Linked DNA regions of Homo sapiens. The protein of the gene in region 1 interacts with the protein of each later gene in a biochemical or structural test. Each region holds a gene or a part of one and is shown in the gene's direction. Other genes may lie near its edges.

What was found.
Region 2: the proteins of SLC16A7 (region 1) and DLG5 interact in a test that uses a peptide from one of them, tested with the Homo sapiens proteins (one large-scale study listed by IntAct).
Region 3: the proteins of SLC16A7 (region 1) and TJP2 interact in a test that uses a peptide from one of them, tested with the Homo sapiens proteins (one large-scale study listed by IntAct).
Region 4: the proteins of SLC16A7 (region 1) and MAST2 interact in a test that uses a peptide from one of them, tested with the Homo sapiens proteins (one large-scale study listed by IntAct).
Region 5: the proteins of SLC16A7 (region 1) and FRMPD4 interact in a test that uses a peptide from one of them, tested with the Homo sapiens proteins (one large-scale study listed by IntAct).
Region 6: the proteins of SLC16A7 (region 1) and LIMK2 interact in a test that uses a peptide from one of them, tested with the Homo sapiens proteins (one large-scale study listed by IntAct).
Region 7: the proteins of SLC16A7 (region 1) and RHPN1 interact in a test that uses a peptide from one of them, tested with the Homo sapiens proteins (one large-scale study listed by IntAct).

The regions. Positions count from the first base shown.
Region 1 is NC_000012.12:59,703,782-59,707,834, forward strand, and holds part of SLC16A7 (monocarboxylate transporter 2), read left to right. Parts: intron 1-990; 5' UTR 991-1,020; coding exon 1,021-1,237; intron 1,238-4,053. UniProt on the Homo sapiens protein: Proton-coupled monocarboxylate symporter. Catalyzes the rapid transport across the plasma membrane of monocarboxylates such as L-lactate, pyruvate and ketone bodies, acetoacetate, beta-hydroxybutyrate and acetate.
Region 2 is NC_000010.11:77,923,777-77,928,539, reverse strand, and holds the start of DLG5 (disks large homolog 5), read left to right. Parts: upstream 1-1,784; 5' UTR 1,785-2,019; coding exon 2,020-2,323; intron 2,324-4,763. UniProt on the Homo sapiens protein: Acts as a regulator of the Hippo signaling pathway.
Region 3 is NC_000009.12:69,218,963-69,223,015, forward strand, and holds part of TJP2 (tight junction protein 2), read left to right. Parts: intron 1-1,924; coding exon 1,925-2,534; intron 2,535-4,053. UniProt on the Homo sapiens protein: Plays a role in tight junctions and adherens junctions. Acts as a positive regulator of RANKL-induced osteoclast differentiation, potentially via mediating downstream transcriptional activity.
Region 4 is NC_000001.11:45,801,896-45,806,483, forward strand, and holds the start of MAST2 (microtubule-associated serine/threonine-protein kinase 2), read left to right. Parts: upstream 1-1,716; 5' UTR 1,717-2,000; coding exon 2,001-2,177; intron 2,178-4,588. UniProt on the Homo sapiens protein: Appears to link the dystrophin/utrophin network with microtubule filaments via the syntrophins. Phosphorylation of DMD or UTRN may modulate their affinities for associated proteins. Functions in a multi-protein complex in spermatid maturation.
Region 5 is NC_000023.11:12,718,420-12,722,472, forward strand, and holds part of FRMPD4 (FERM and PDZ domain-containing protein 4), read left to right. Parts: coding exon 1-371; intron 372-2,109; coding exon of another isoform or gene 2,110-2,114; coding exon 2,115-3,439; 3' UTR 3,440-4,053. UniProt on the Homo sapiens protein: Positive regulator of dendritic spine morphogenesis and density. Required for the maintenance of excitatory synaptic transmission. Binds phosphatidylinositol 4,5-bisphosphate.
Region 6 is NC_000022.11:31,274,372-31,278,424, forward strand, and holds part of LIMK2 (LIM domain kinase 2), read left to right. Parts: intron 1-779; coding exon 780-937; intron 938-2,065; exon of another isoform or gene 2,066-2,417; coding exon of another isoform or gene 2,418-2,769; exon of another isoform or gene 2,770-3,267; intron 3,268-3,925; coding exon 3,926-4,053. UniProt on the Homo sapiens protein: Serine/threonine-protein kinase that plays an essential role in the regulation of actin filament dynamics. Acts downstream of several Rho family GTPase signal transduction pathways.
Region 7 is NC_000008.11:143,371,552-143,375,604, forward strand, and holds part of RHPN1 (rhophilin-1), read left to right. Parts: intron 1-2,180; exon of another isoform or gene 2,181-2,583; coding exon of another isoform or gene 2,584-2,742; exon of another isoform or gene 2,743-2,746; intron 2,747-4,001; coding exon 4,002-4,053. UniProt on the Homo sapiens protein: Has no enzymatic activity. May serve as a target for Rho, and interact with some cytoskeletal component upon Rho binding or relay a Rho signal to other molecules.

The DNA.
Region 1 (4,053 bases):
AAAAAGAAAAGTGGTAACTCTATGAGGCAAGGGTTATGTTAATTAGGTTGACCGTAGTAATCATTTTGCTATGAATATGTATAACAAAACATGTTTTACACCTTAAATATATAATTTTTATTTTTTAAAAATAGTGGGGGCTGGATGCGGTGGCTCACACCCGTAATCCCAACACATTGGGAGGCTGAGGTGGGTGGATCATCTGAGGTCAGGAGTTCGAGACCAGCTTGGCCAACATGACGAAACCCCATCTCTACTAAAAACACAAAAATTAGCCGGGCATGGTGGCGCCTGCCTGTAATCCCAGTTACTAGGGTCTGAGGCAGGAGGATCGCTTGAACCTGGGAGGCACAGGTTCCAGTGAGCCAATATCATGCCACTGCACTCCAACCTGGGCCACAGAGTGAGACTCTGTCTCAAAAAAAAAAAAAAAAAAAGAAAAAGAAAAAAAAAAGAAAAAGAAAAAAGTGAGTTAGAATTATCTCTACAATCATCAAAAAGCGTAGACAACAGAAAGCAATAAAAAAAGCCAATAGATCATGTCAAAAGGCTTTGCATCCATCATTTCGTTCCTTGGCTTAGCCTTAAACAGGAAGGAAAAATGAGACCAAAAGTATCAATTAATGAGGTTAAAACAACTGGTGATTGAAGTAGAATATGTATCAGATCTATCTTAGAGCTATGACTGATGTATAATGTAAAATGGTACTTCAGTTCAGATCTAAATTCTTAACTTCACTTTGAGTAATTTTTGTTTCAATAATCAAATTAAATTATTTAAATATTTAGCCCACAATAATCAAAGGTATATAACTTGCATCAATTGTTTTTGTACATTTTCTGGTAATTTTCTGAGTATAAGAGTGTGAAAAATATTCATGAAAAATCATATTGTAGTTTTAACTGGAAAGTACTATTTTAGTGACTATGAAGAGTGGTAAACAAAAGGGGAAATAAAATTTAAACTGTTATTTCATTATTTTAATATAGGTTACTTGAATTTCCACTAGAGGAGCAGAAATGCCACCAATGCCAAGTGCCCCACCTGTGCATCCACCTCCAGATGGAGGATGGGGTTGGATTGTGGTTGGAGCAGCTTTTATCTCCATTGGATTTTCCTATGCATTCCCCAAAGCTGTCACCGTATTCTTCAAAGAAATTCAGCAAATATTCCACACTACCTACAGTGAAATAGCATGGATTTCATCCATTATGCTGGCTGTTATGTACGCAGGAGGTAAGCTTCTTGCAATAAATAGAATCCTGAATTAAGAAAATAATTCCTCCATGTCACAATGTTTTACATGGAGTGTCTTGGTATATTAAAACCCTGTTTTTATGTTATAGTCACTTAAAACCAATCAAAAGTATAATTAGAACTGAAATTTCAATGATTTTAGTGATTCAGCATCTTAAGCTATTTGCTTCGAATTGAGTCTTAATGGAGGATTTGTTTGAATAAGAATTTGTAAGCACAAAGCAAGATTTACTAAATTATGGAATTTCTAAGTGAGGCTACTTCATTTAGTTTGAAATAAAGTCCACAACATATTGCTGATGTCATTTTTCACAATCGCTACCTCTGGTAGAAATGCTTTCTTCTGAATGAGAAGAAAATTTAAGTTGCTGACAGTTTATAAGCCCAGAAAGTACATCACTTTAAGCTGCAAAAATGAAGGGTTAACATGTACATTCTAGACCCATTCAAATTTGTGTGACTGAAATAATTATTTATCTCTATAAGGCTCATTAAATAGGACATCTTTTTAACTTAAATTGTTGCTTGGAAATTATCTTATTACATTCTATGTTCAAATGAGGGTATTAGTCATGAAGGATAATGAAGAAATCAAAGTACCATCCCACTTCTAAATGTTGCAAATTTGGAATTATTGGTGCCTTATTATGTCATCTATTTTCTGTAAATCAATCTCAATAGCAGACCAGACTCTCTTGTAGAATTTTTTGAAAGTCATTACTTAAAATATGTCTTTTAGCGTTTTTATTTTTCAAGTGGATATTTGACTTTAAGGGATAGATATAGACTCAGACTATAGTCATTTAAAGAAATTATATCAATTATCTTCTGTGATTTCTTATTTTTCAAGTAAGGATAATATGGCTCTTAGTCATGAAAATATAACATTAGTATAATATCCAGTATTTAGTAATATTTACTTTCACCCAAGGCCTAAGTACTTAATATGTGTGATATGACTTAATCCTCTTAATGATCCGTGAAATAAGTATTATCTTCTCTTTATTCCATAGCTAAGGAAATATATACAATAGCTCTCCCAAGTCAAACAACTTGTTAGTAGTAAACAGAGACTGTAACTCCTAGCATTTAACACCTGTGGTCTCTGACTTTCTCATAACTTTCTCTTTACATCTAGAGAGTGACAAAGCCAGATCTGGCCCAGGCCTTCTATAAACCTGATTCAATTCTTTCTACTTCAGCTCAGTGGCTTGTGTACCACCTCCACCAATGTCATTTGTTCAGTGACATAATAATTATTCTTTAGGACATTATCTTTTTGTTGTACTACGAAGGTAAACAGTTGATCCTGAAATAATTCCCTGTGTGTGTGTGTGTGTGTGTGTTTATGTGTGTTGGTGTTGGAATGTGTTTTATACTTTTTATATATAGTGACTTTATATTAATACAGCATATGTTTCCCTTATTCATTTGGTTAGGTTAAACATGCATTTTTCTTCCAGTATCAAAAGGTATCCTTTAAATACTATTTGGGCGTGTCAATGGAAAATTCTACTTCTAACACACATTCTATGAATCTCCTTTGGACAGTTGCTTTATAGATTGTAAGAATGTTATTTCTTGTGACCATAGAAACAGTAGGTATTGTAGAGTAGATATTCCTGTATCCTGTGGGACAGGTGTTGTTTAATAATGTTTTGCTAGAGCAGCACACAGTCATCTTGATTTCAGCTCCAAAACGTGCTAATATTAAGATATGTAGAGGGTTTTCTTGCCTCTTAAATACAATTGAAACAGTCTCTTCTAGTGAATTAATATAAGTCCATTGAATTTGAACTTCAGGTCTTACATAGTCATAATTCCTTATTGAGCAGATAGTTGACTAACTCATCAGTAGGACAAAATTTTATATACTGTTTTAATTAAGCCAAATCTTAATTTACATTCTCTGTTAGTTTTCAGACCTCAGAGTCTTGATGACTTAAAACAATACAGGTTATTTCTTTCTGAAGCAATGTTTCAAAAAGTGGCTATTCCATCACCCAAGGCTTTGTATGTTGTTCCCTAAATCTGCTCCATCTGTTGGACAAATAGTAAAGGCAGACAGCATGGAAGATCATATGGACTATTTTAGGGGGTATGCCTGGGAGGAATAAACATTATTTCTGTACATATTCTATTGATCAGAACTCTTATACTGCCCTACCCAGAGTTAGGGGCCATGGATGCTGGGAAATACAGCCTTCCCAAAGGAAGAAACAGAACTACATAACATCTAGCCAGTCCTAGTCAGAGCCTGGTATCTCAATATTCTCCATTGAACAAAAGAAGCATGTGTTTATAGACTTGCCTATGACAGCCCTCCACCCTCTGGCTGGATCTAAAAGGAACATTAGAATGAACAATGGCATAATTAACTTTCTCAAACCACTAAATCTCAATATGAAATTATAAAAAGTAAATATACTATATTTACTACAAATAAATGTTTTTATTTTATTCATACTTATTTTTCTATTTTAATATATATGGTATAATTTTTTAAAAGCACAAAAGAACTCTTCTGAAATTCATGAAGAAAATGGTAGTTTGTTAAAATAGTTATAAATTTGGAAAAAGCTGCCTTAAAATTTTTAGGGTGATAGATGAATAAAATATGTCTAAGTTAAATATTAACAGGGATTTTATATATGCTTGTTTTGTGAAAGCAGTGCTAGATACATACAAATTCTTGGTATTTAGTAATTGATGAAGGCAATATCTAGGTGAGATCCAAGTAAGTACCTGGAATATTGCCTAAAGTCCTCCATTATCGGGGCTAAAACATGCAAATG
Region 2 (4,763 bases), on another chromosome or scaffold:
GAACTATATCTCAGGAGCAGGACTGGGAGGGAAGAGCCAGGGAGCCTGTCTGGAACCCTGATACTGTGCAATGGCCAGCCTTCCACTCCTCTAAAACCTTGCTTAGCCATAGAGGGTCAGACTACGGGAGCAGGCAGGTATCTTTAAATAGTTCATTTCTGCCATATTGGGGTCCATCTGGAGGTCTTAAAGAACTTGTAACTCTATGGACCCCATTCCAGAAAAATATATAAATGTTCACAAAAAAGTTGAGATCATGTCAAAAGCTTCATTGACATCCTTGAGCTTATTCATGAAGCCAAGGCTAAGAACCCCTGATCTAATATTCTCCCTCCACCATTTTTCCTAAGGACAAAACAGATCAGCAAGGATTATTGGTTTGTTCCACCTTGTGCAGCTGCTTAGAGGGGAGTCCAAGTCCAAAGTGCAAATTCTGATACTCTTGTTCTTTCTACCATATAGTGAGTTCGTTTCCATAAATAAAAACGACTTCTCCCCTTGAAGAAGCAGACTAAGAAGACACTGCTTTTTGAGGGAAGGGAGGAGGCATGTGGCTGGGACTGGCAGTGTGGGTAGACAAAGTGCCTCTCACCCCCAGCGAGATCCACTCATTCCAACGTAGATATTTGAAATGGACCTGGGTTCCCACTCTACAGAGGAGCACTGCGGGATCACTGAGCGCAGTCAGAGTTCCAGCTTTGAAGGACCTTGTCCTGCAGTCAGGGAGGTAAGCAGTATGTGTCCACAAACGGCTGTCGTGGAAGAGAAGACATTCTTGGGCTTTAAGGGGGACTGCAGATCCTTTCCAAGTCATCAAAGGAAGCAAGGTAGTCCGCTGATTTGTCTCCCTCTGAGACATTTAGGGGGAGAGCGCCTCACTTGCCAGAAAGACCAAGGACTGCACCGCAGACACCCACCTTTCTTTTCCTCATCCGGCGACACATCCTTCCTCCTGCCAACATCCTAACTCCTTTACACTCTGGGGACCAGCTCTTCTCAAATGCTGGCGCGGGGAACAGCCTATTTACCGCAGTTGAGGCGATTTTACTGGGAAATTCTCTTAGGAGCTCCTTGGAGAGGGAAAGCCTCACGGATTCGGCGGAGGTCTTAATCTGGAGATGTCCAAATTTAGGGGAAACCCTCCCCACCATTTGTCTCCAGGCTGTATTTTGGAGTTCTCAGATTAGGACCCTCTGGACTGGGGGCAAGATTTGTATGAGGGGGTCTCCAGCAGCTTGTGGGCTGGCCGCGTGCCAGGCCTGACTCCGTGTCCCCCACCCCCGGCTGCGCCTGGGCCTCGGGGGACCGGGAACCAGCCGGCGCCGCGTCCCCGCCTAGCGGGCGGGCCGGGGACCCCTCCCCTCCGCCCGTCCCCTCCTCCCCTGCTGCCGCCTCCCGGAGGGACGGCCTGGGGAGGGGAGAGAGGAGGGACGGGCCGGCGGCGGCGGGGCTGTGGCCACGGGGGAGCGGGTGGCGGCCGCGGGGCCCCGGTGAGCCGGGCCGGGGTGCACGGGGGCCGAGGCGGCCTCCGAGCCGGGCCGGAGCTGTCGGGAGCCTGGGAAACACGGCCCAGGCGACTTTCTCCCGGGAGTTGTAGTCTTGCTCTGGGGGCGGCGCGCGGCCCGGCTTTCGGGGCGAGTTTTCTCGCGGGGCGGGCGGCGCGCGCGGAGGCTGAGGGGGAGGGGGAGCATGCCCGGCTGGAGCCCGGCCTCGGGGCGCGCCCCGGCCGCCGTCCCCACCTCCGCCTCCTCCTTCTCCTCCTCCGTCTCCTCCTCCTCCTCTTCCAGTCCCGCCGCCGCGGCAGCCAACATGGCTGCGCTCCGGAGCCCGGGAGGCGGCCGCTGCTGAGCGCCGCCCGCCGCCCCGGGCCCCCAGCCCGCCCAGGCCCCGGCCCATGGCTCCCGCCGCCTCACGGCTCCCGGCGCCCTAGGGCTGCTGCCGAGGTGCTCGCCTGCCCGCCCGCCGGCCTCGGGGGGCCCGGGAGGCGTCCGGCGGGGCGGGGCGGCGCGGCCCGCCACCATGGAGCCCCAGCGCCGGGAGCTGCTCGCCCAGTGTCAGCAGAGCCTGGCCCAGGCCATGACGGAGGTGGAAGCCGTGCTCGGGCTGCTCGAGGCCGCGGGAGCGCTCAGTCCCGGCGAGCGGCGGCAGCTGGACGAGGAGGCGGGAGGCGCCAAGGCGGAGCTGCTGCTCAAGCTGCTCTTGGCCAAGGAGCGGGACCACTTCCAGGACCTGCGGGCGGCGCTGGAGAAGACGCAGCCTCACCTGCTGCCCATTCTCTACCTGAACGGCGTCGTCGGGCCGCCGCAGCCCGCCGAAGGCGCGGGTGAGTGGCAGACCCTTGGCCCCCGCCTCTGGGACGCGCCCTCCGCTTCTCCCTCCTGCTGGCCGAGGGTACCTCGCCGGGGCCGCCGCTCCACCTGGCGATGGCCTCGGTGGACTCGCTCCTCTGGCCCAGTTGGGGAGGCGGCGGTGCGCGGATCCCGAAGTCCCGCCGCCTCCCCCAGTCCCGCCGTTCGCTGTGAACAATGCCCCCCGCTGAAGGCCTTCACTCTCAGGTGCCTCGACGACAGGGTCCCCGGGGGCCACCAGGTCCAGTAGCGGGTAGGGGGTACCTCGGAGGATGTCCATCAGTCCCTTTTCTGAGGCTCCTCACCGTCCGCTAGCTTTGGCACCCTGTGCTAGCCTTTAACCAAGGGTACCGTCCAGAAGAATGGGACTTGGGCCAGGACCCCTACTCTTAAGTTTTGGTCGCTGCCATCCTGTGCCGGGGCCACAACTGCTTTTTCATTTTCTGGCTGTCCCAGCTCCTTTTTCTCTGCTCAGAGCCCAGTCTCTCCCAGACTGGTGGCTGATTGTGCACAACGCCTGCCTGGGTTTCTTTGGAAACTGGGCCCGGAAAAGTTGGGGAAGTTGCATTGCACCATGGGAAAATCCTAGTAGTGGCTGCTGGGGCTAAGTTCTCTCCCTGAGAGCACAGAGCTGCTTAACGAGGAAGGCTGGTGACTGGTTCCCTTGAGGGTGCCTTTTGGAACCCCTGTGTCTTTGGTCTTGGGGATGACTGATTTGTAAGTGTGTGTCTGGGTGCAGGAACGGATACTGGCGGGAGTTTCTGACAAGTGGTAGGCTTGTCCTGGCCTGGCCGTGGAGTGTGGAAGCCAGCCTTTTTAGACAAGGCAGCTGGAGGAAGAAGACATGGCACTGAGGGAGGAGGAGAACTAGCATTTATTGGGCATCTACTGTTGTGGCAGGCGCTCTGCTTTATCACGTTCAGTTGTCGTTGCCACTATGTGAGCTTTCTGTTATTCTTTGCCAGAGAGAAAACTCTGGCTTGGAGTGGTTAAAATGCTCAGAAAGTATTGGGCACCAGGAATTTTGAATTATAACCTATTGTTTGATTTAACTTGTTCAGAGCCAGGAAACAAAGTGCCATCTTTCTAGGTCTTGTCCCTGTTTTAACAGTGAATCGATAGGTACAGTAAAAATAAATAAGGATATATGTATAAAAGAAAAACAAGTGAACCGAGAGGGCTGAGAAACTGCCCTTAGCAACCTGAAGGTCAAAGGCTGATGGGACCCATTTATTTGGCTGTTAAAAGCCCCACTTATTAAGGGAATGATTTTATAAGGCATTCCTGGTAACAGCTCTCTTACGTTGGCCATCTTAACCTCAATTTTTGTAGCTGCAGGAAACTGACAGAGAGACTAAATTGCTGGCCACACAGCAGGTCATTTCATTGGTGGCCCTCCCGTCTCCACTTTGAGCTTCTGACTTGCATCTCTGTCCCTCAAACCTGCATTCTTTCCCCCCAGTTGTGGTCATGTCAGAGTTACTGGGCAAACCTAGTCCTTTCCTGGGATAGTGCTTTGGGAGATGCTAGGAAGGGACTGTCAGATGTGGCCATGAGGATAAGGACAGAGGGGATCTCAACAAAGTAATTTTTTTCTTTTTAATTGTATCTATGTATCTATCTAATCTATCTCTGAATGAAGAAGTTAAGATCTGTTTCTGAAAGTCTTTCGTAAAGCACAGAACTTAGTACAGACTGGAAGTCTGCGTTGGGAAGCATGTGAATCAACGCTCGCCTTAATCTCTGAAAATTGATTGATGGATCAATTGCCATTAATTAGGTCTCACCCTTTCCGTGTCTGGTGGAGAATGTGGGGCCTCATGGGGCTGAAGTTCTAGGAGCTAGTCTTGACCTCTAAGGAAGGCAGAGATTAGGGTTTGGATTTTATCCCCTAGGGCATTGATTTCAGACCCCAGTTTTACCACAATGCAGAGTTATGTGACTTTGGAGAGGGTCATGAAATCCTTAGAAAAATACTTTTCAAGGAGAAGTTAAGTTCATTTTACTTAATGCATTAGAAAAACGCTGGTTGGGTGTGGTGGCTCATGCCTGTAATCCCAGCACTTTGGGAGGCCGAGGCGGGCAGATCTCTTAAGGCCAGGAGTTCGAGACCAGCCTGGCCAACATGGTGAAACCCCGTCTCTAATAAAAATACAAAAATTAACTGGGCGTGGTTGTGGGCGCCTGTAGTCCCAGCTACTTGGGAGGCTGAGGCAGGAGAATCACTTGAATCTGGGAAGTGGAGGTTACAGTGAGTTGACATGGTGCCCTTGGATTCCAGCCTAGGTGACAGAGCAAGACTCCTTCTCAAAAAAAAAGAAAGAAAAAAGTTAGGACAGCATTTGGTATGGCAAGATGCCACCTGAAGCCCCTGGGGAAGAGGGTGACATGGTGTGTCAGCAAACAGTGGCGTGT
Region 3 (4,053 bases), on another chromosome or scaffold:
TGTGTGTATTTTTTTTTTTTTTTTGAGACAGAGTTTTGCTCTTGTTGCCCAGGCTGGAGTGCAATGGCACGATCTTGGCTGACCACAATCTCCGCCTCCTGGGTTCAAGCGATTCTCCTGCCTCAGCCTCCCGAGTAGCTGGGATTACAGGCATGCACCACCACACCTGTCTAATTTTGTATTTTTAGTAGAGACGGGGTTTCACCATGTTGGTCAGGCTGGTCCCGAACTCCCAACTTCAGGTGATCCGCCAGCCTTGGCCTCCCAAAGTGCTGGGATTACAGGCGTGAGCCACCTCACCCGGCCACATATATGGTATTTAATGTTTTTCAACTTTATATTATGAAGATTTTCAAAGAAAAAGGAAAGTTGAAAGATCAGTGTAATAAACATTTATCTTCTAAAATATTACTATTCTGCCATCTTTACTTGGTCTCTGTATGTATATAAACACTCATGTCTTTCTGGGCAACCATGCGAAGGAAAGTTACAGACATGACAGTTCATTTCTACTTACTTCACATGCATTTCCTATGAATGAGGACATTCATCTATATAATACTATTATCCGATCTAAGAAAAGTAATAATTTTACAGTATTATCTAAAATCCAGTCCATATCTCAAGATGTCTTTTTCATTTTTAGAGATGGGATCTTGTTGTGTTTCCCAGGCTGATCTTGATCTCCTGGGTTCAAGCGATCCTTCCACCTCAGCCTCCCAAGGTGCTGGGATTACAGGTGTGAGCCACCATACGCAGCTCTCAAAATGTCTTTGATATATGTTTTCTTCCCTATCCAGGATCCAAAGTTCACTCATTGCATTTAATCATTATCTCTTTAGTTCCTTTTAATCTAGAAGGGTTCCTCTTTCCCCTTGCCCCTCTACCCCACCCCCCACTTTAAAAATGGCATTGGGCCAGGTTCAGTGGTTCACGCCAGCACTTTGGGAGATGGAGGCAGGCAGATCACCTGAGGTCAGGAGTTCGAGACCAGCCTGGCCAACATGGTGAAACCCCGTCTCTACTAAAAATACAAAAATTAGCCAGGCATGGTGGTGTGCGCCTGTAATCCCAGCTATCGGGAGGGTGAGGCACGAGAATCGCTTGAACCTGGGAGGCGGAGGTTGCAGTGAGCTGAGTACAGTCCAGCCTGGGCAACAGAGCGAGACTTTGTCTTAATAATAAATTAAATAAATAAATAAATAAGGCATTGACTTTTCTTCCTTAAAATTTTAAAAATTTATGCATAATGCATAGTTATAGGGTATGTGTGATTAATTTAATACATTAATATGATTTGTAAAATTCAGATGAGATTGGGCACGTTCAGGATGGTATGGCTGTAGACATGATTTGTAAAATTCAAATCAGTGTATTTGGAATATCCATCACCTTAAATAATTGTCTTTTCTTTATGGTAGAAACGTTCAGATTATTTTCTTCCAGCTATTTTGGAATGTACAGTAGATTCCTGTAAGCTGTAGTCACCCTACCGATCTAACATTAGGTCTTATTTCTTCTATCAGACCATATATTTGTACCCATCAATCAACTTCTCTTTATCCGCCTTTGCCCCCTTGGCAGCTATGTATAGAATGTCACACTTTCTGGATTTTTGTTTTTTGAGTTTTATAACTTAGTGATTTGGGCCTCTGAGACTTTTCAAACTTGAGTAGAAGCAGATTTTGGAGATACTATTTTATTATTACCTTAATTCAAGGCCCTGTACTCAGAGCTTCACGGTCATTGTCCTATTCTAACCCTGTGAGATTTTTATTGTCCGTTTCCGGATGAGGAACCTGAACCTTAGTGAGTCGGCAGGGATACGGTTTTCCTGAAACCAGAACCAGGGCTCTTAACCACTGCCTTCTCCACATTCAGTTGTGATTGTCCTGCGTCCACACTGAGTTTGTTTTGACAACAGGTGGTCAAGAGGCCCCGGAAGGTCCAGGTGGCCGCACTTCAGGCCAGCCCTCCCCTGGATCAGGATGACCGGGCTTTTGAGGTGATGGACGAGTTTGATGGCAGAAGTTTCCGGAGTGGCTACAGCGAGAGGAGCCGGCTGAACAGCCATGGGGGGCGCAGCCGCAGCTGGGAGGACAGCCCGGAAAGGGGGCGTCCCCATGAGCGGGCCCGGAGCCGGGAGCGGGACCTCAGCCGGGACCGGAGCCGTGGCCGGAGCCTGGAGCGGGGCCTGGACCAAGACCATGCGCGCACCCGAGACCGCAGCCGTGGCCGGAGCCTGGAGCGGGGCCTGGACCACGACTTTGGGCCATCCCGGGACCGGGACCGTGACCGCAGCCGCGGCCGGAGCATTGACCAGGACTACGAGCGAGCCTATCACCGGGCCTACGACCCAGACTACGAGCGGGCCTACAGCCCGGAGTACAGGCGCGGGGCCCGCCACGATGCCCGCTCTCGGGGACCCCGAAGCCGCAGCCGCGAGCACCCGCACTCACGGAGCCCCAGCCCCGAGCCTAGGGGGCGGCCGGGGCCCATCGGGGTCCTCCTGATGAAAAGCAGAGCGAACGAAGGTAGGCATGCTTGATGTGGGAAGAAAAGCACTGTTGTGATATGAATAACCTTTGTTTTCTTAATTTTTTTTTTTCCCCCGAAAGTGTTGCTCTGTCATCCAGGCTGGAGGGAAGTGGCGTGATCTCGGCTCACTGCAACCTCCACCTCCCGGGTTCAAGTGATTCTCCTGCCTCAGCCTCCTGAGTAGCTGGGTCTACAGGCACCCGCCACCACGCCCAGCTAATTTTATGTTTTTAGTGGAGACAGGTTTCAACATGTTGGCCAGGCTGGACTTGAACTCCTGACTTGAGGTGATCCGTCCACCTGAATCTCTCACAGTGCTGGGATTACAGGCATGAGCCACCACGCCTGGCCAGGAATAGCTACTTTTTTTTTTTTTTTTTTTGAGACGGAGTCTTGAGTCTTGTTCTGTTGCCCAGGCTGGAGTGCAGTGGCGTAATCTGGGCTCACTGCAACCTCCGCCTCCCAGGTTCAAGCAGTTTTCCTGCCTCAGCCTCCCTAGTAGCTGGGATCACAGGCGTGCACCACCATGCCTGGCTGATTTTTTTATTTTTAGTAGAGACGGGGTTTCACCGTGTTGGCCAGGCTGGTCTTGAACTTCTGACCTCAGGTGATCTGCCCACTGCAGCCTCCCAAAGTGCTGGGATTATAGGCATGAGCCACTGCACCTGGCCAGCTAACTTTTTTTTTTTTTTGAGACAGAGTCTCACTGTGTCACCCTGGCTGGAGAGTGCAGTGGCATGATCTCGGCTCACTGCAACCTCTGCCTCCTGGGTTCAAGTGATTCTCCTGCCTCAGTCTCCGAAGTAGGTGGGATTATAGGTGCCTGCCACCACGCCCGGCTAATTTTTGTATTTTCAGTAGAGACAGGTTGGCCAGGCTGGTCTCAAACTCCTGACCTCAGGTGATCTGCCCACCTTGGCCTCCCAAAGTGCTGGGATTACAGGTGTGAGCCACCGCATCTGGCCGAGCTATCTCTTAATTGCACTTAACCAGCATTGTACCCAGCATTGACCTAAATGCCTAACACCAATTCGTTCGTTTAATCCTCAGAACTACCTCATGAGGGAGGACTCTTGTTTCTCCATTTTATAGACAAGGAAACTGAGGCACAAAAGGTTCATTGATATACACAAAGTTGTGTCATCATTGGAAGAGCCAGGCTTCAGAATTTTGGCTTTAAACTAGGAGACCAGTGGTTCTCAAAGCAGTGCATCACCTGGGCACCCCTTAGAAATGCAGACTCTCAGGCCCAACCCAGTCCCACCAGCTCAGAAACCATGGGGTGGAGCCGGGTGCAGTGGCTCACACCTGTAATCCCAGCACTATGGGAGGCCGAGGTGGGCGGATGACTTGAGGTCAGGAGTTGGAGACCAGCCTGGCCAACATGATGAAACCCCATCTCTACTAAAAATGCAAAAATTAGGTGGGCGTGGTGGTGGGTGCCTGTAATCCCCACTTCTCTGGAGGCTGAGGCAGGAGAATAGCTTGAACCCCAAGGGGCAGAGGTTGCAGTAG
Region 4 (4,588 bases), on another chromosome or scaffold:
CAAGCTCTGTCTCCCAGGTTCATGCAGTTCTCAGCCTCCTGAGTAGCTGGGACTACAGGCACCCACCACCACGCCTGGCTAATTTTTTTGTATTTTTAGTAGAGACGGGGTTTCACTGTGTTAGCCAGGATGGTCTCGATCTCCTGAATTCATGATCTGCCCGCCTTGGCCTCCCAAAGTGCTGGGATTATAGGCGTGAGCCACTGCACCCGGTCCATTTAATTGTTTTAAGCAAGCAAGTAACATATAGGAAGAGTCTTGTGAGGGCTTTTTGAAGGATGAGTTTAAAGACAATGAGACTGGCATAAGTGAACCCGTTGAAGGCTTTCTCAGTCAAGTAGGTGAGGGAAGATGAAACTTGAGGTGGTGCCAATGGGACGGAAAGAGGAGGCAGATTGGAGAAATAGTGAGGTTATAGAGGCAATAAGACTTGTTCATTTATTGGATGTGAGGAAAGGACAAGGAAGGAGTCCAGGATGATTTCCAGGTTTCTGGTTGAGGCAACTGGATGGGTGGTAAGGAACTGGGACAGGGAATAGAGGAGCAGGCTGGTGACAGGCCGTAGAGCACATTGGTTATGTGCATCCTCCCGGCCTCCCAGAAGGAATCCATCACTTTTTCCACTTTTATAGGTGTTTCCGCACTGTCTTTCTGTCCGGATCTGGCAGACCTGGGTTTGAGTCCTGGCTCTGGACTTATAAGCTGTGTGATGTTGAGCATATTATGTAATTTGAGCCTATTTCCTCAACTGTAAAATGGAAATACAACTTACTTCTTGTTTGTGTATGTCTGAATTGAATGCACAGTGTGTGGTATGCAGTGGGCACTCCATAGTGTTGGCTATTTTTATTACTCAGAAAGGGGTCAGGGAAGAGGCCCAGGACAAATGGGTGAAGGCTTTAAGCAAGGCTTCTAGGTCAAAAGAGGAAAAACACAACATGTGGCAGACCAGCTGAAGCCAGAGGGAGGCCAGAGCTGAGCTACCACCACATGTTGCTGAGCAGATGAGTCACTGCAGGCAGCAGGTCAGGCTACCCAGGCCACAGCAGACTGGGCTGGGCTCTACACGATGACTTCATTGTATGCCTTTTTTGTCCTCTCCTCCTCCCAGAAGGAATCCATCACTTTTTCCACTTTTATAGGCGTTTCCACACTGTCTTACTGTCCGGAAAGAGCAAACACGGTGGAAAGGGACAGAAGAGCCAGAATTCCGTCTAGTTTGATCACTGATTTGCTGGGTGACCTGGTGCATTTCACTTCGCCTCAGTCTCTTTATCTGTAATATGAGAATGCGCAGATTTGCCTCCTAAGTGTGATGTGAGAATTAGGTGAGAGTTGGCAGGCACTAAATAAAAAAGCATGCATTAGCCTTCTATTCATTAGTTGTGTTATTCTGTCTCCTTCCTGCTCCCGGCCCCTCTCTCCCTAGTTCTTTGAGGACACCGATCGACTCGAACTCATTTTTGGGTCCCCAGCACTGAGCTTGGCCCAGCAGTTTCATGAATGGATGAATGAAAGATTCAATGGGAGTCCGCAGCCGCTGACGGCGCGCCGAGAGCCCCGCTCGCTTCTGGTCCTCCGACTGCGCGCCAGGGCCACGGGCGGGTCCTTTGCGACCGTTCGCTGGCGCGTGCGCGGGAGGCGGCGCGCGGCCGGAGGTGGCGGGCGGGCTCCCGGTGCGCGCGCGTGAGGGGCGGGGCCGGCCGAAGGCTGGCTGTAGGCAGGCGGCTGAGCCGGCGGCGGGTGGCCTGCCCAACGTGTGCTGGGTGGGAGAAGGCGAGGCGTCAGCGATGCTGTCTCTTCCGTGAGGAGCGCAGAGGAGGTCGCGGCGCCGGAGGCCCCAGAAGGCTCGAAGGCGCCGCGGGCTGGGGTCGGTGGCTTAGGGAGCCCGTCCGGCCATGGTGGCCGCGGGTGGTGGTTGGCGCGGCTGCGCTGCGGCCCGGGGCAGTGCGGAGCCGGGACAGTCGCGGCGCTGACGCCCGCGGGCCCCAGCTGCAGATATGAAGCGGAGCCGCTGCCGCGACCGACCGCAGCCGCCGCCGCCCGACCGCCGGGAGGATGGAGTTCAGCGGGCAGCGGAGCTGTCTCAGTCTTTGCCGCCGCGCCGGCGAGCGCCGCCCGGGAGGCAGCGGCTGGAGGAGCGGACGGGCCCCGCGGGGCCCGAGGGCAAGGAGCAGGTAGGGCGGGTTGGGATCCGGGAGGGTGAACCTGAATGGAAGCCGTGGGGGAGGGGATCTTCGGCGGGAGGACCCGGGCTGGAGCTTTGGAGGGGTGGGGTCTGAGTAGTTCGCGGGGAGGAGTGGGAGGTCTGGGGAGGCCGAGAAATGGGGAGTGGAGAAATGGAAGTGGTGGCCTGGGGTTGTATTGGAAATGGGGGTGTAGAAGAATGAAAAATTGGTGCAAGAGATAGTCAGGGGTTCTGGATGGGGCGAAAGGACGCTGGAATGTGGGCTGAGTGTGTGAGCTGCAACGAGTAGGCTTACTAAAGAGGCGTTGAGGAGTTATCCATAGGAGTAAATAGAGTAAGATGTAAGTCAATTTGATGTAGTGTTATCCTGTTTTCTAGAGGTTGTCCTTAAAATTGTAAAAACGGATGACACTCCCAAGCATTCTCTGATTTGGCCATCATTATACTTTTGTACCAGTGTGTTCACAATCATTGTTAAGGCTCTCTTTACCAACCATCTATTTCACAAGAAAGCACTTGTGAAACACCTGCATGTGAGCAGTGTTAAGCCCAATTTTGTGAACAGAATTCGTAGATATATGGTTTGCCTGCTAGTTTTCCACTGAAAACACATTACTGGGAAAACACAGCAGCATACAAATATTCATGGAGTTTCTGAATGAACAGGATATGTTTATGTAATTTATTAGTCAAGAGTAGGTGTATTTATGAGTAGGGGATAAAGGTCAGTTTTATCAGGCAGGAGAAGCTGCCACTAGTAGCGGTAATAAGTTTAGTGAAAGGAGAATAAGTAATCCTTGGTCTTGTTGGATTTACAGAAAAATGTTCTGTAGTAATGAACTCTAGTGACAGCTTTCCTTTTGTTCAGCTCTATTCGGGATCCTACTGACTTCATCCATGAATGTTTTAAGACTTCTTATAGGTCTCTTACCTCTTTTCTCTCAGATAAATTAGCATTTTCCTTAGACATTTTTTTTTTTTTTTGAGACGAAGTCTCGCTCTGTCGCCCAGGGGAGAGTGCAGTGGCATTATTTCGGCTCACTGCAACCTCCACCTCCTGGGTTCAGCGATTCTCCTGCCTCAGCCTCCCGGCTAGCTGGGATTACAGGTGCCTACCACCATGTCCAGCTAATTTTTTTGTATTTTTAGCAGAGACAGGGTTTCACCATGTTGGCCAGGCTGGTCTGGAACTCTGACCTCAGGTAATCGGGATTACAGGCATGAGCCAGTGTGCCCGGCCCTTTAGACAGTTTAAAAATTATATACCATGCTAGGTAGCCCTTGGACTTTTCCCCCCTTTTGTTCTTCCACCTCTTATTCCCCACTGAGCCCTGAGGAGACTGCACCATTGACCATCTCTGCCCCGCTTCTAGCTGCTGAGCATTGTCCTCTTGCTGCAATTTACTCCCCCATGTGCCTAATACTTATCTTTTACATTCTCTGCAGTATCATCTAGTCAAAACTTGTACAATGAACTTCAAGTCCAGGTCCTTTCCTGTCTCAGTTTACCTGTCCAGTTGACCTTACTGCGTATTTCATGGTAGAGTTCAAGATTACTTGATTTTTCCCTCCTCTTTATTTTATGATTTTTGTGTTTTCTCATCCTTAGCTTCAGTCTCAGAGAAAAGTACTCATCCTCCTCTCCGAGGCTAATTTCTCTACTTATGTCCTTGATTTCATCCTCTTTTGTTTGCCTTAGACCCTTGTTACTCTCTTTGTTTTATATCACAAATAAAAACAAAACAACATAATTTCCCTGAATTGTGTAACCTACCCAAACTACTTTGTTATCTCTTCTTTGCTTCCCCAACAACCTTCTTGAAAAATGAGTTTGTATTCAGTGTCTTAGCTTCCTCACCTTGTATACATTTCTAATATGGTTTGGCTTCTTCACTTATGCTTTCCCAAAACTGATGTCTTTAAGGTCACCGAAAGCTTTTTTTGTGTGGGATTACTTTTTTATTGAGGTTTGACAAATCAAAGGTTCATTCAGTCCATGAAATATTACAGAATGAGTACCTGTATGATCACAACTCACATCAGGATGGAGAACATTCCCAGTACCCTAGAATGCTCCCTGTGCTTTCTCCTAGCACTACTCTTTTACAGATGTAACCTCCCTCACCACCTCTGTCACTATAGATTTGTTTTGAACTAATACTTCATATAAATGGAATCATAGTGTGTACTGTTTTGTGACCAGATTCTTTCATTCGGATCATGTCTTGAGACTCATCCATGTTGTTGCTTGTAGAAACAGTTCTTTTTCATTGCTGTGTAATTTTCCATTGTATGAATGTATTGTGATGGTTACTAAAACTTATTTTTGTTTTTGAGACAGGATCTCACTCTGTCACCCACGCTGGAGTGTAGTGGTGCCGTCATAGCTCACGGCAGCCT
Region 5 (4,053 bases), on another chromosome or scaffold:
GATGTCATCACTGCAAAGCGAGGGCCATTTTTCTCTGCAGAGCTCCCAAGGCTCTTCAGTGGATGCAGGCTGTGGCACAGGCAGCAGTGGCAGTGCCTGTGCCACACCCGTGGAGTCGCCGCTCTGCCCCTCCCTGGGGAAGCACTTGATTCCTGACGCTTCTGGGAAAGGCGTGAATTACATTCCTTCAGAGGAGAGAGCCCCTGGGCTTCCCAACCACGGAGCCACCTTTAAGGAACTGCACCCACAGACAGAAGGGATGTGTCCACGGATGACAGTGCCTGCTCTGCACACAGCCATTAACACCGAACCCCTGTTTGGCACATTGAGAGATGGATGCCATCGGCTCCCCAAGATTAAGGAAACCACAGGTACAGCAATGATGGATTTAGCACTTTGTATGACATGCCAAGAGCATGTAAACCATATTTACAACAAACTTAAAAACGTAATGTCTGGAAGAAAAGTAAAAGGTAGAATTTTAAAAGGCCACAGAACTGTAAAGTACCAATCATTGATCCCCTGGTATTTAATAAATACTAAAGATTATAAAGGTGAAAATGGCATTTGCTCTTTATAATCTTACTCTGTGCTTGCTTTCAGAATTGGATGGGGCAATATGTTTTTCCTAAATTCTAAATGCAGATGTTTAGCAATGCCCAGTGTGACTTTTAGTTATATGATAGTATTGCTTAGAGTCACATAACAGTTTGATTTTCTTCCCAAGACATCTGAGTTCTAATTCTGCCATTTCATTATTGAGGGACAAGGAAGGATAAGAGAGCAGGGTATCAGGGAGATTGGAGGGGTTTGGAGAGATCATTTGCCTTTCGGCAATCTTACTGATTCCTCCCTACTCTGTAAGACTGCTCTATATGGATGTTCTGAAGTGTCTTGCATACCCCAGTGTCAGGAAGATTTTGAGGCTATTCCTGATGAGCTGCTTTATTTTCCCCAAAATAATAAAGTGTAAACACACGTAGAAAAAAGAACACATCCACCTTCTGTATCCCACCTTCACCACTCCACCACTCAATGGCAGGCATTCCCCTCACCGATCCACTTGGCTGGCCATCACATGGCAAAAGCAGATACTCTTTCATACTTTTATGTTTCAAATTATGTCATCAATAGTGTCTTTTCCATACAGGTCAATGGAAGTTAGTGACATCTTATATTGGTCATTTTCTATTCCTGTTCTTTTAAGATTTTCTACTTTCTCAAAACCCACCACTGGCTTTACCTCCTTTGGAAAAGCTGTCTGTGAATATCACCTAACTCATCACCCAACTGCATCTTTACCTCTAAACTAAGTCACACTGTTTAATCCTTCATGATTTATAAAGAACTTTCACCTGAGTTACCTCTTGCTTCTCACAAAAATTCTGTGAGATGGGGATTATTTGCTTCACATGACAGCTTTTCTTAAAGAAAAAAAAAAATGTTGAACAACTGGCCCAGTGTTTCAACTTCAGACTTTTACCAGGCAAACCTCATGCTGACTTCTTAAAAAGATTCACTTATTTAATTTGCACTAATTAAATTAGGCCACTTCTTTAAAAGAAAGAAAGGAAAGAAAGGAAAGGAAAGGAAAGGAAAGGAAAGGAAAGGAAAGGAAAGGAAAGGAAAGGAAAGAAAGAAAGAAAGAAAGAAAGAAAGAAAGAGAAAGAAAGAAAGGAGGAAGAAAGAAAGAAAAGAAAAGAAAAGTAACAATGCCAGATTTAACCTAATTCCCTTGAAATGAAACTTAATATCTCCAATATATTTGAATAATCTATACACAGTTGTTTTCTGTGTCTAAGCTTTGATGGGTAGATATTGGGAGTAAGGCAATTCATGAAATCCCTGAAAATGTTTGGGATTTCTAGACAATTCCAAATGAATCAGCAGTTCCAGAAATAACAGATTCCAGTATTTTCTTGATATTCATTAAAATGGAAATTTGTTATGAGATATCAAGAGGCAGTCTTTGGAAAGCAGGGTGACCTTAGCATCGGCAGCCCTTCCAGACTACAACCTTGAGAAATGACAGACATCATGTAGAGATGTAGTAAAAATGACCTCCCAGGAGATGCTTAATGATTCTCTCTGTTTTTCTACTACCCCTAGTGTAGCTTTGACAGAGCCTGGGAAGGAGAGACGAGGAGGCATGCCTTCAGCTTGGTCTCAACATCCTGAAGCTGATCCCATCCTGCTACCATCAAACATTCACTCGGAATCAAAGGTGCCAATTCCAAATCAAGACCCTAATGATTTCTCCCAAGCAAATCAGGCATACGGAGAGGCTGTGAGCTGGCGGCCACCGGATCTGAGAGGGGGGAGCCTCAGGACACCTCCCAGCCAGAAGGCTCTGAGACATAGCAGCAGTATCCTCTCCGGATCTGTCGATTTGGAGACCTTCCGAGAGAGAACCAAGGGTGCAGTCAGCTTAAAGTGTCCAGGCATCACAGAAGCACAGGAGGCCAGTTCTGAAAGGCGAGCAGAACTCCCCCTGGGGAGGAAGCTCACCAAAAGTTTTTCCCAAAGCTCAATGCACTTGAGCTCTGAGGGGAGGTTTCACAAAAGGTCCCCAGTGGCTCATAAAGACTCAAAGCTGTATAGGACATTACCCTTGCGGAAGCTGGAGGGCAGCAATTGGAGATGCCGGGGACCCTTCAGCTATTGCTTCCTGAACCGAGGGCAGGATGAAGATGGTGAGGAAGAAGAGGAGAGGGGAGAGGCCACCGTCCAGGTCTCTTGCCTCTATAGACCACAGATGACTCAAGCCATGCCAGAACCAAGCAGCCCATGCCTGGCTGTGGCGATTCAGAAGCAACGAGGGGAGCTATCCAGAGGGTCAGTGCTGAAGGTCTGGGCAGAAGACCTGCGAGACCCAGATGACTTGGACTTCAGCAACCTGGCTTTTGATGCCCGGATTGCAAGAATAAATGCCCTAAAGGAGAGCACATATGCAATGCCTGATGGGTTCCTTGCAGCCCAAAATGATGCCAATGAGCTGCTCTGTCTCGTCAGGGCAACCAAGGAGAAGAGGGAGGAGTCACGCCCTGAAGCGTACGACCTTACACTTTCTCAGTACAAGCAACTGTTATCCATTGAGTCCAGACAGTTGGGAAGTGCCTGTAGGAAAATGGCGATGGCTGAGAAAAGCCCGGAGGAGATGCTCCTAGCTATGACTTCCAGCTTTCAAGTGCTCTGTTGCCTAACAGAAGCTTGCATGCGATTAGTTAAAGTCGTGAACTCAGAAACACAGCGGCAGGAAATTGTAGGGAAGATCGATGAAGTGGTCATAAATTACATTTGTCTACTGAAAGCTGCCGAAGCAGCCACTGGAAAGAACCCTGGGGACCCTAATGTTGGACTCTCGGCGCGACACTCAACCACCATGGCCGCTCTCGTAAGCACACTGACACGTTCTCTCAAGAGGCTTTTAAACAAATAAATATGGAAGTCACGTCATAATCTACCTTTGCAAAGCCATACATGAACTTTTATTTACTTTGTGTGTATGATGAACAGATGTCTCCTTTCTTCTCTCTGTATATTTTGTTATTTTATATAAAATAGGAGATAAAAGTCACATTGATGAAATGTTGAAATGTACTAATCAGATGTATTCTGTTTATATTATACATATATATACACGTAAAAGAAATATCCAAGAAAGTGATGACATTTGGCTATTTTTCATATAGTTAAAACTCCAGGTATATGATGTGAAATTTTAAATTCTACCATGTTAGAGCAAAACAATGAATCCTATCCCCTTTCTTTCCAAGTAGCTACTTGGAAACCATATCATTCATATTTAGAAGTAAAACACAAAACAAAAAAGAGAGAGAAAAGAAAAGAAATCACAATGTATATAAAACAGTACTTATGTTTTAAAATTATGATTTTTAAGCATTGGAAATAGCAAAAAGACATTTAAAATTCAAGAAGCTATTATGAATTACTAGAGAATATATCTGTAATAAATTAATTTTTTGCTCATAGTATTTGGTTACTGGATGCTTTCTTCCAAGAATCCCACATATTTAATTTGGGTTTTTGCTA
Region 6 (4,053 bases), on another chromosome or scaffold:
GGATGGTTAGGATAATGAAGGAATGTTTTGTTTTTGTTTTTGTTTTTGAGATGGAGTTTCACTCTGTCACCCAGGCTGGAGTGCAGAGGTGCAATCTTGGCTCACTGCAGCCTCCGCCTCCCAGGTTCAAGCAATCCTCCTGCCTCAGCCTCCCAAGTAGCTGGGACTACAGGTGTGCGCCACCACGCCTGGCTAATTTTTGTATTTTCAGTAGAGACAGGGTTTCGCCATATTGGCCAGGCTGGTCTCAAATGCCTGACCTCAGGTGATCCACCCGCTTCAGCCTCCCAAAGTGCTGAGATTACAGGCATGAGCTACCGTGCCTGGCCATGAAGGAAGATTTGTTTTAAAAAATTGTTTTCTTTAATATTAATTGAACACCTCTGTTCAGAGCACTGGGCTGGTGCCAGAGGGTTTCAGACATGAATCAGATCCAGCACCTCATAGAGCCTTAACTCTGGCACACACACACAGCCACAAGGAGACACAGACAAGGCAGGGTAGGATGAGTGGAAGCTAGGAGCAGATGCTGATTTGGAACACTTGGCTTCTGCAGTGAAGCCCCTTCTTAGTCCTCTTCAGTAACCCAGCTCTCAGTGGATACAGGTCTGGATTAGTAAGATTTGGAGAGATGATTGGGGATTGGGGAGAGCTCTCTAACCTATTTTACCACCTCCTCTTCTGCCATTCTTCCTGTCCACATCCCAGCATCCCTTTCCCTTGCCAAGTATCTGTGGCCTCTGTAGTCCTTTGTAAACAGCTGTCTTCTTACCCTACAGATCATTGGGCAGGTGTATGCAGATCCTGACTGCCTTCCCCGAACACTGGACTTTGGCCTCAACGTGAAGCTTTTCTGGGAGAAGTTTGTTCCCACAGATTGTCCCCCGGCCTTCTTCCCGCTGGCCGCCATCTGCTGCAGACTGGAGCCTGAGAGCAGGTTGGTATCCTGCCTTTTTCTCCCAGCTCACAGGGTCCTGGGACGTTTGCCTCTGTCTAAGGCCACCCCTGAGCCCTCTGCAAGCACAGGGGTGAGAGAAGCCTTGAGGTCAAGAATGTGGCTGTCAACCCCTGAGCCATCTGACAACACATATGTACAGGTTGGAGAAGAGAGAGGTAAAGACATAGCAGCAAGTAATCTGGATAGGACACAGAAACACAGCCATTAAAAGAAAGTTTAAAAGAAGGAAATTCACCCAAACCATTTGAATACAGTAAGTGTATTCATCTTTCGATATTCCCCTGTCCATATCTACACATATACTTTTTTTTATAGTAAATAGTTCTGTATTTTGCCCTGCATTTCCCTTGTGTTTACTATCCAGTCTTCCTGTTTATCATTTTTGTCGACAACATGAAATTCTATTGAGAGACTGTCTGAACATATTGTAATGTAGATGTTCAGGTTTTTCCAGTTTCTCTTTACAATAGGTATTTAACTACAGTGAGCAGTTTTATGCATTTAGCTAATTTCTCCTTTGAGGAAGTATTTTCAAAATTACCTTTATTCTTCTCAGGTAATAATTTCATTATTACCAAAGTTACCCTAGGTCTTTTCAAGTGTGTGGTTAAAAAACGAGAATCTGGCTGGGCGCGATGGCTCACACCTGTAATCCCAGCACTTTGGGAGGCTGAGGCTGGTGGATCACCTGAGGTCTGGAGTTCGAGACCAGCCTGGCCAACATGGTGAAACCCCATCTCTACTAAAAATACAAAACTTAGCCAGGCATGGTGGCAGGTGCCTGTAACCCCAGCTACTTGGGAGGCTGAGGCAGGAGAATTGCTTGAACCCAGGGGCGGAGGTTGCAGTGAGCCGATATCACGCCATTGCACTCCAGCCTCGGCAACAAGAGTGAAACTCTGTCTCAAAAATGGGGTTCTTTTCCTGCCATCAAAAATCATGTTTCTTTTAAAAACAAGTTCAAACATTACCAAAGTTTATAGCACAGGAAATACGTCTTCTGTAATCTCCCTTAACCAATATATCCCTCAACATTCTCCTCACCCCCAACTCCACCCTCCCAGGATAACCAGTTGGGACATAATCTTTATTTAAAAATGGTTTCCGGATAGAGAAAGCGCTTCGGCGGCGGCAGCCCCGGCGGCGGCCGCAGGGGACAAAGGGCGGGCGGATCGGCGGGGAGGGGGCGGGGCGCGACCAGGCCAGGCCCGGGGGCTCCGCATGCTGCAGCTGCCCCCGGGCGCCCCCGCCGCCGCCCTCGCCGCGGAGCCGGCGAGCTAACCTGAGCCAGCCGGCGGGCGTCACGGAGGCGGCGGCACAAGGAGGGGCCCCACGCGCGCACGTGGCCCCGGAGGCCGCCGTGGCGGACAGCGGCACCGCGGGGGGCGCGGCGTTGGCGGCCCCGGCCCCGGCCCCCAGGCCAGGCAGTGGCGGCCAAGGACCACGCATCTACTTTCAGAGCCCCCCCCGGGGCCGCAGGAGAGGGCCCGGGCTGCGCGGATGATGAGGGCCCAGTGAGGCGCCAAGGGAAGGTCACCATCAAGTATGACCCCAAGGAGCTACGGAAGCACCTCAACCTAGAGGAGTGGATCCTGGAGCAGCTCACGCGCCTCTACGACTGCCAGGAAGAGGAGATCTCAGAACTAGAGATTGACGTGGATGAGCTCCTGGACATGGAGAGTGACGATGCCTGGGCTTCCAGGGTCAAGGAGCTGCTGGTTGACTGTTACAAACCCACAGAGGCCTTCATCTCTGGCCTGCTGGACAAGATCCGGGCCATGCAGAAGCTGAGCACACCCCAGAAGAAGTGAGGGTCCCCGACCCAGGCGAACGGTGGCTCCCATAGGACAATCGCTACCCCCCGACCTCGTAGCAACAGCAATACCGGGGGACCCTGCGGCCAGGCCTGGTTCCATGAGCAGGGCTCCTCGTGCCCCTGGCCCAGGGGTCTCTTCCCCTGCCCCCTCAGTTTTCCACTTTTGGATTTTTTTATTGTTATTAAACTGATGGGACTTTGTGTTTTTATATTGACTCTGCGGCACGGGCCCTTTAATAAAGCGAGGTAGGGTACGCCTTTGGTGCAGCTCAAAAAAAAAAAAAAAAATGATTTCCAGCGGTCCACATTAGAGTTGAAATTTTCTGGTGGGAGAATCTATACCTTGTTCCTTTATAGGCCAAGGACCGCAGTCCTTCAGTAACACCAGTGTAAAAGCTTGAGGAGAAATTGTGAAGCTACACAGTATTTGTTTTCTAATACCTCTTGTCATTCTAAATATCTTTAATTTATTAAAAAATATATATATACAGTATTGAATGCCTACTGTGTGCTAGGTACAGTTCTAAACACTTGGGTTACAGCAGCGAACAAAATAAAGGTGCTTACCCTCATAGAACATAGATTCTAGCATGGTATCTACTGTATCATACAGTAGATACAATAAGTAAACTATATTGAATATTAGAATGTGGCAGATGCTATGGAAAAAGAGTCAAGACAAGTAAAGACGATTGTTCAGGGTACCAGTTGCAATTTTAAATATGGTCGTCAGAGCAGGCCTCACTGAGGTGACATGACATTTAAGCATAAACATGGAGGAGGAGGAGTAAGCCTGAGCTGTCTTAGGCTTCCGGGGCAGCCAAGCCATTTCCGTGGCACTAGGAGCCTGGTGTTTCCGATTCCACCTTTGATAACTGCATTTTCTCTAAGATATGGGAGGGAAGTTTTTCTCCTATTGTTTTTAAGTATTAACTCCAGCTAGTCCAGCCTTGTTATAGTGTTACCTAATCTTTATAGCAAATATATGAGGTACCGGTAACATTATGCCCATTTCTCACAGAGGCACTACTAGGTGAAGGAGTTTGCCTGACGTTATACAACCAGGAAGTAGCTGAGCCTAGATCCCTTCCACCCACCCCATGGCCCTGCTCATGTTCCACCTGCCTCTAATTTACCTCTTTTCCTTCTAGACCAGCATTCTCGAAATTGGAGGACTCCTTTGAGGCCCTCTCCCTGTACCTGGGGGAGCTGGGCATCCCGCTGCCTGCAGAGCTGGAGGAGTTGGACCACACTGTGAGCATGCAGTACGGCCTGACCC
Region 7 (4,053 bases), on another chromosome or scaffold:
TGCCTTTTGCCCGTCCCCAGGTCAGCCCCACTCTGGCCAGGGCCACACTGTTTCCTCCTGGGCAGAGGAGCCCCAGTGTCAGGGTTGGGGGGCTGTTTCTCTGTTCTTCGTCCCTCTCCATCGAGGCATGGCCAGGCCCTTCATGTGTGGCTGCCTCTCGGGACCCCCACAGACCACAGCCTCTCTGTCCTTTCCTAATGCAAGGCGGAAATGGCCACAGTGGGGTGTCAGGGCACCGTGGACGTGGGGGTGGGGAGCTCCAGGTCACCTTTGTCTCCAGAGGGTGGGGAGGTTGTAGCAGGAGTAGGGGCCTGAACGCCTGTGTCTATGCCCCTTCCACTGGGCTCAACCTTCAACCCAGTGTGGAAAGTGGGGCATGGGCCGCCCACCTCCAAGGTCTACCCAGCCTCAAAGGTCCGGCTCGGGTCTGCTCCTCCGCCTGTAGGCCGGGAAGTCACTTGGCCTGCAGGGAGCACTGCGGGTAGGGAGGCCGAGGAATGGACCAGGCCCACAGCAGGTGCCTGTGGGGCTCCAAGGGGCCAGGCTCCCCGCAGCTCTCCTGGGGCCAGGAGGGGAGCAGGGACCTGGCTGGGTGTCTGATGCCCGTCGCACAGCCAGAGCCCTTAAAGCTGCTGGAGCCTTGCAGCGGGGCCTTTGCGGGGAGGGGGTGTAGCTGCGGTGGGTGGCACGGGGGTCTCCTAGGTACTGGGCAGAGGCCCTCGAGGTGGTAGCGCCGGTGGGAAAGGTAGGGATGGGAGGCGGGGGTGGGCGGGCCTCAGGTTCAGGGAGCTTCTCAGATCTGAGGCGCCCATGCCCCTCTCCCACCTGTGGGCCTCTCCAGCCCGAGTCCCTGAAGCAGCTCTGGAGGGAATTTCTTTTCTGGAGGAGGCGGGAGTGAGAAACGGGAGCAGGGTGAGGGTTCCCAAGTGCACATCGGCCCGTCCGCTGCTGGGTGGTGTCCACGGGGGCAGGGCTGGGCTGGGGGAGGCCAGGGTCCTGGGCCGGCACACCCTCCTTCCGGCTGCCTGTGTCCCTCCCTCCAGCTGCCTGTGTCCATCCCTCCGGCCGCCTGTGTCCCTCCCTCCGGCCCCTAAGCGCCAACTCATCTTCAGTTCAGGGACCTCCGTCAGGCTCCCTCACCCCAGCACTCAGCAGGAGGCTGCCGGCCTGGGTGTCCAGGGGATGGTGCGGGTGTCCAGCAGACAGTACAGGGGTTTGGGGGATGGTACAGGTGTCTGGGGGATGGCGTGGGTGTCCAGCAGATGGCGCAGGGGTTTGGGGGATGGCACAGGTGTCTGGGGGACAATGCGGGGGTTTGGGGGATGGCGTGGGTTCCAGGGGATGGTGCAGGGGCTTGGGGGATGGTGTGGGTTCCAGGGGACGGTGTGGGGGTTTGGGGATGGCGCGGGTTCCAGGGGACGGTGTGGGGGTTTGGGGATGGCGCGGGTTCCAGGGGATGGTGTGGGGGTTTGGGGATGGCGTGGGTTCCAGGGGACGGTGCGGGGGTTTGGGGATGGCGTGGGTTCCAGGGGACGGTGCGGGGGCTTGGGGGATGGTGTGGGTTCCAGGGGACGGTGTGGGGGTTTGGGGATGGCGTGGGTTCCAGGGGATGGTGCAGGGGCTTGGGGGATGGCGTGGGTTCCAGGGGATGGTGCGGGGGCTTGGGGGATGGTGTGGGTTCCAGGGGACGGTGTGGGGGTTTGGGGATGGCGCGGGTTCCAGGGGATGGTGTGGGGGTTTGGGGATGGCGTGGGTTCCAGGGGACGGTGTGGGGGTTTGGGGATGGCGCGGGTTCCAGGGGACGGGGCGGGGGCTTGGGGGATGGTGTGGGTTCCAGGGGACGGTGTGGGGGTTTGGGGATGGCGTGGGTTCCAGGGGACGGTGTGGGGGTTTGGGGATGGCGCGGGTTCCAGGGGACGGTGTGGGGGTTTGGGGATGGCGCGGGTTCCAGGGGACGGGGCGGGGGCTTGGGGGATGGTGTGGGTTCCAGGGGACGGGGCGGGGATTTGGGGGATGGCGTGGGTTCCAGGGGACGGTGTGGGGGTTTGGGGATGGCGCGGGTTCCAGGGGACGGGGCGGGGATTTGGGGGATGGTGTGGGTTCCAGGGGACGGTGTGGGGGTTTGGGGATGGCGCGGGTTCCAGGGGACGGGGCGGGGATTTGGGGGATGGCGTGGGTTCCAGGGGACGGTGCCTCATCCTCCAGTCTCTGTCTCTGCCTTCCCATGGCCACCTCCATGTGACTGTGTTCAAATTCCCCACCTCGTATAAGGACCCTTGTCACTGCGATTAAGGACCCCCTACTCCAGGGTGGCCTCATCTTAACTCATTATATCTGCAAAGACCCTATTTCTAGAAAAATTGCAGTCACAGGTACTGGGAGTCAGGACTTGAACCTGTCTTTTGTGGGGACACAATTCACCCATAATAGATGGTCACCCGCTCAGCTGGCTGCTGTGATTTTGGGGGGCTGGACGAGCAGGCCTTCTGTCTAGGAAATCAAACCTTTCTTGTATAATGGGAATAAACTAATTAAAATGCACACAAAGATCTCGTTCACATTAGCAAAAAGAACTCTCTCCAGATATCTAGGAGAAAACCCAGGAAAACACGTGTGAGCTCTTTACGGGGAAGACGGGAAGGCCTGAGAGACGTGTGTGCGTGGAGAGGGTGTCGGGTCCACAGAGGGGAAGACCCAGTGCGTGTGCACGTTGGCCCCATGAATCCGCAGCTTCATGCAGTGGTAGGTCAGTTTCATGGTGGCAAGATTCACCTTCAGACGCCACAAGGTCCTGGGGAAGAAGAGGTCCTGTCTCCCGACAAGGGCGGGAAGCAGTCCCAGGAGCCACCAGAGGCCTTGTCTTGCTGCTGACTGGCAGAAATGGCCAGGTTGGCCACGCCTGACTCAGACCAGGCTCGCCCCAGGGCTGGGTGGGAGTCAGTGTCCCTGAGCAGTGAGCCCTGAGCAGCACTGTGGGTCTCAAAGCATGGAAGGAGTGGGTGCTGGAGAGGCAAGCCAGCCAGCCCACGCCTGGGAGCCCACCCAGGGGACAGCCACAGGTAGCTGCAAATAATCTTGTCCGGGTGGAGACCCAGGCATTCCCACATGGCCACGGGGAAGAGTGGGGGTTGGGAGGCCATGGTGAGAGGGAGGGACACGTGAGGATCATGTGGGCAGGACCCCAACACCACAAGGGTGGGGTGGGCTGAGGCATGAAACTGGATCTCCCTAGAGTGAAATGTAAGCTCCAGCACGCTGGCACCACTGACGACACAGGAGCCATCAAAGTCCAGAAGGGGCCCCGCTGGGCACGCCCCACTCTTTCGCCATGGCTGGTGCTGGGCAGGGCCGCGGGGCTGCAGTCTGGGTGCAAGGCTCAGAGTCATTTCTCTGTGGATAGGGAGGGCACGGGTGTGCGTTCGCTTCGAGAACCATTCCCAAAGTCAGACCGCAGCCTCTGCACCAACCATCGGGGGCCAGTGGCCGCCCCCAGAGCCTCAGGGACCCTGTCCTTTGAGCCCACGCCTAAACCCACATGGGAATGATTTGGAGGCGTGGGTGAGTTGGATGGGAAAAAAATTGGGAGGGGCAAGGGGGGGATCCAGAATGAAATCCAGAAGCGCAGAAGGAAGGCTGTGAGGAGCAGTGGGCCGCCTCCTGCAGGGCTCCCGGAGCCCCTACTTGTCCAGGCTGCCTGGTGAGACCCTGGCTTCTGGTGTCCTTGGCAGGTGCCAGCCTCCCCCGCTGACCCCCATCACGAGTCAGCAGCTTACCCCACCGACCACGTCCTTCTGCATTGACTGCCTCCTGTCCTGCTCTGGCCAGGCCTGTGTTCACACTAGTTCTGTCCAGCCCCTCCCTGTGAGGCCAGCTCCAGCCCCAGCGCATGGTGACCATCCCGTTACCCATGGGCAGGATGCACTCCTCTCAGTGGCTGGCGAGGCGCAGCCTGGTGCGGGCGCCACGGGGTCGGGCTGTGATCGCCTGTGGCCTCCCTGCAGGGCTGTGACTCCCTGACGCAGATCCAGTGCGGCCAGCTGCAGAGCCGCAGGG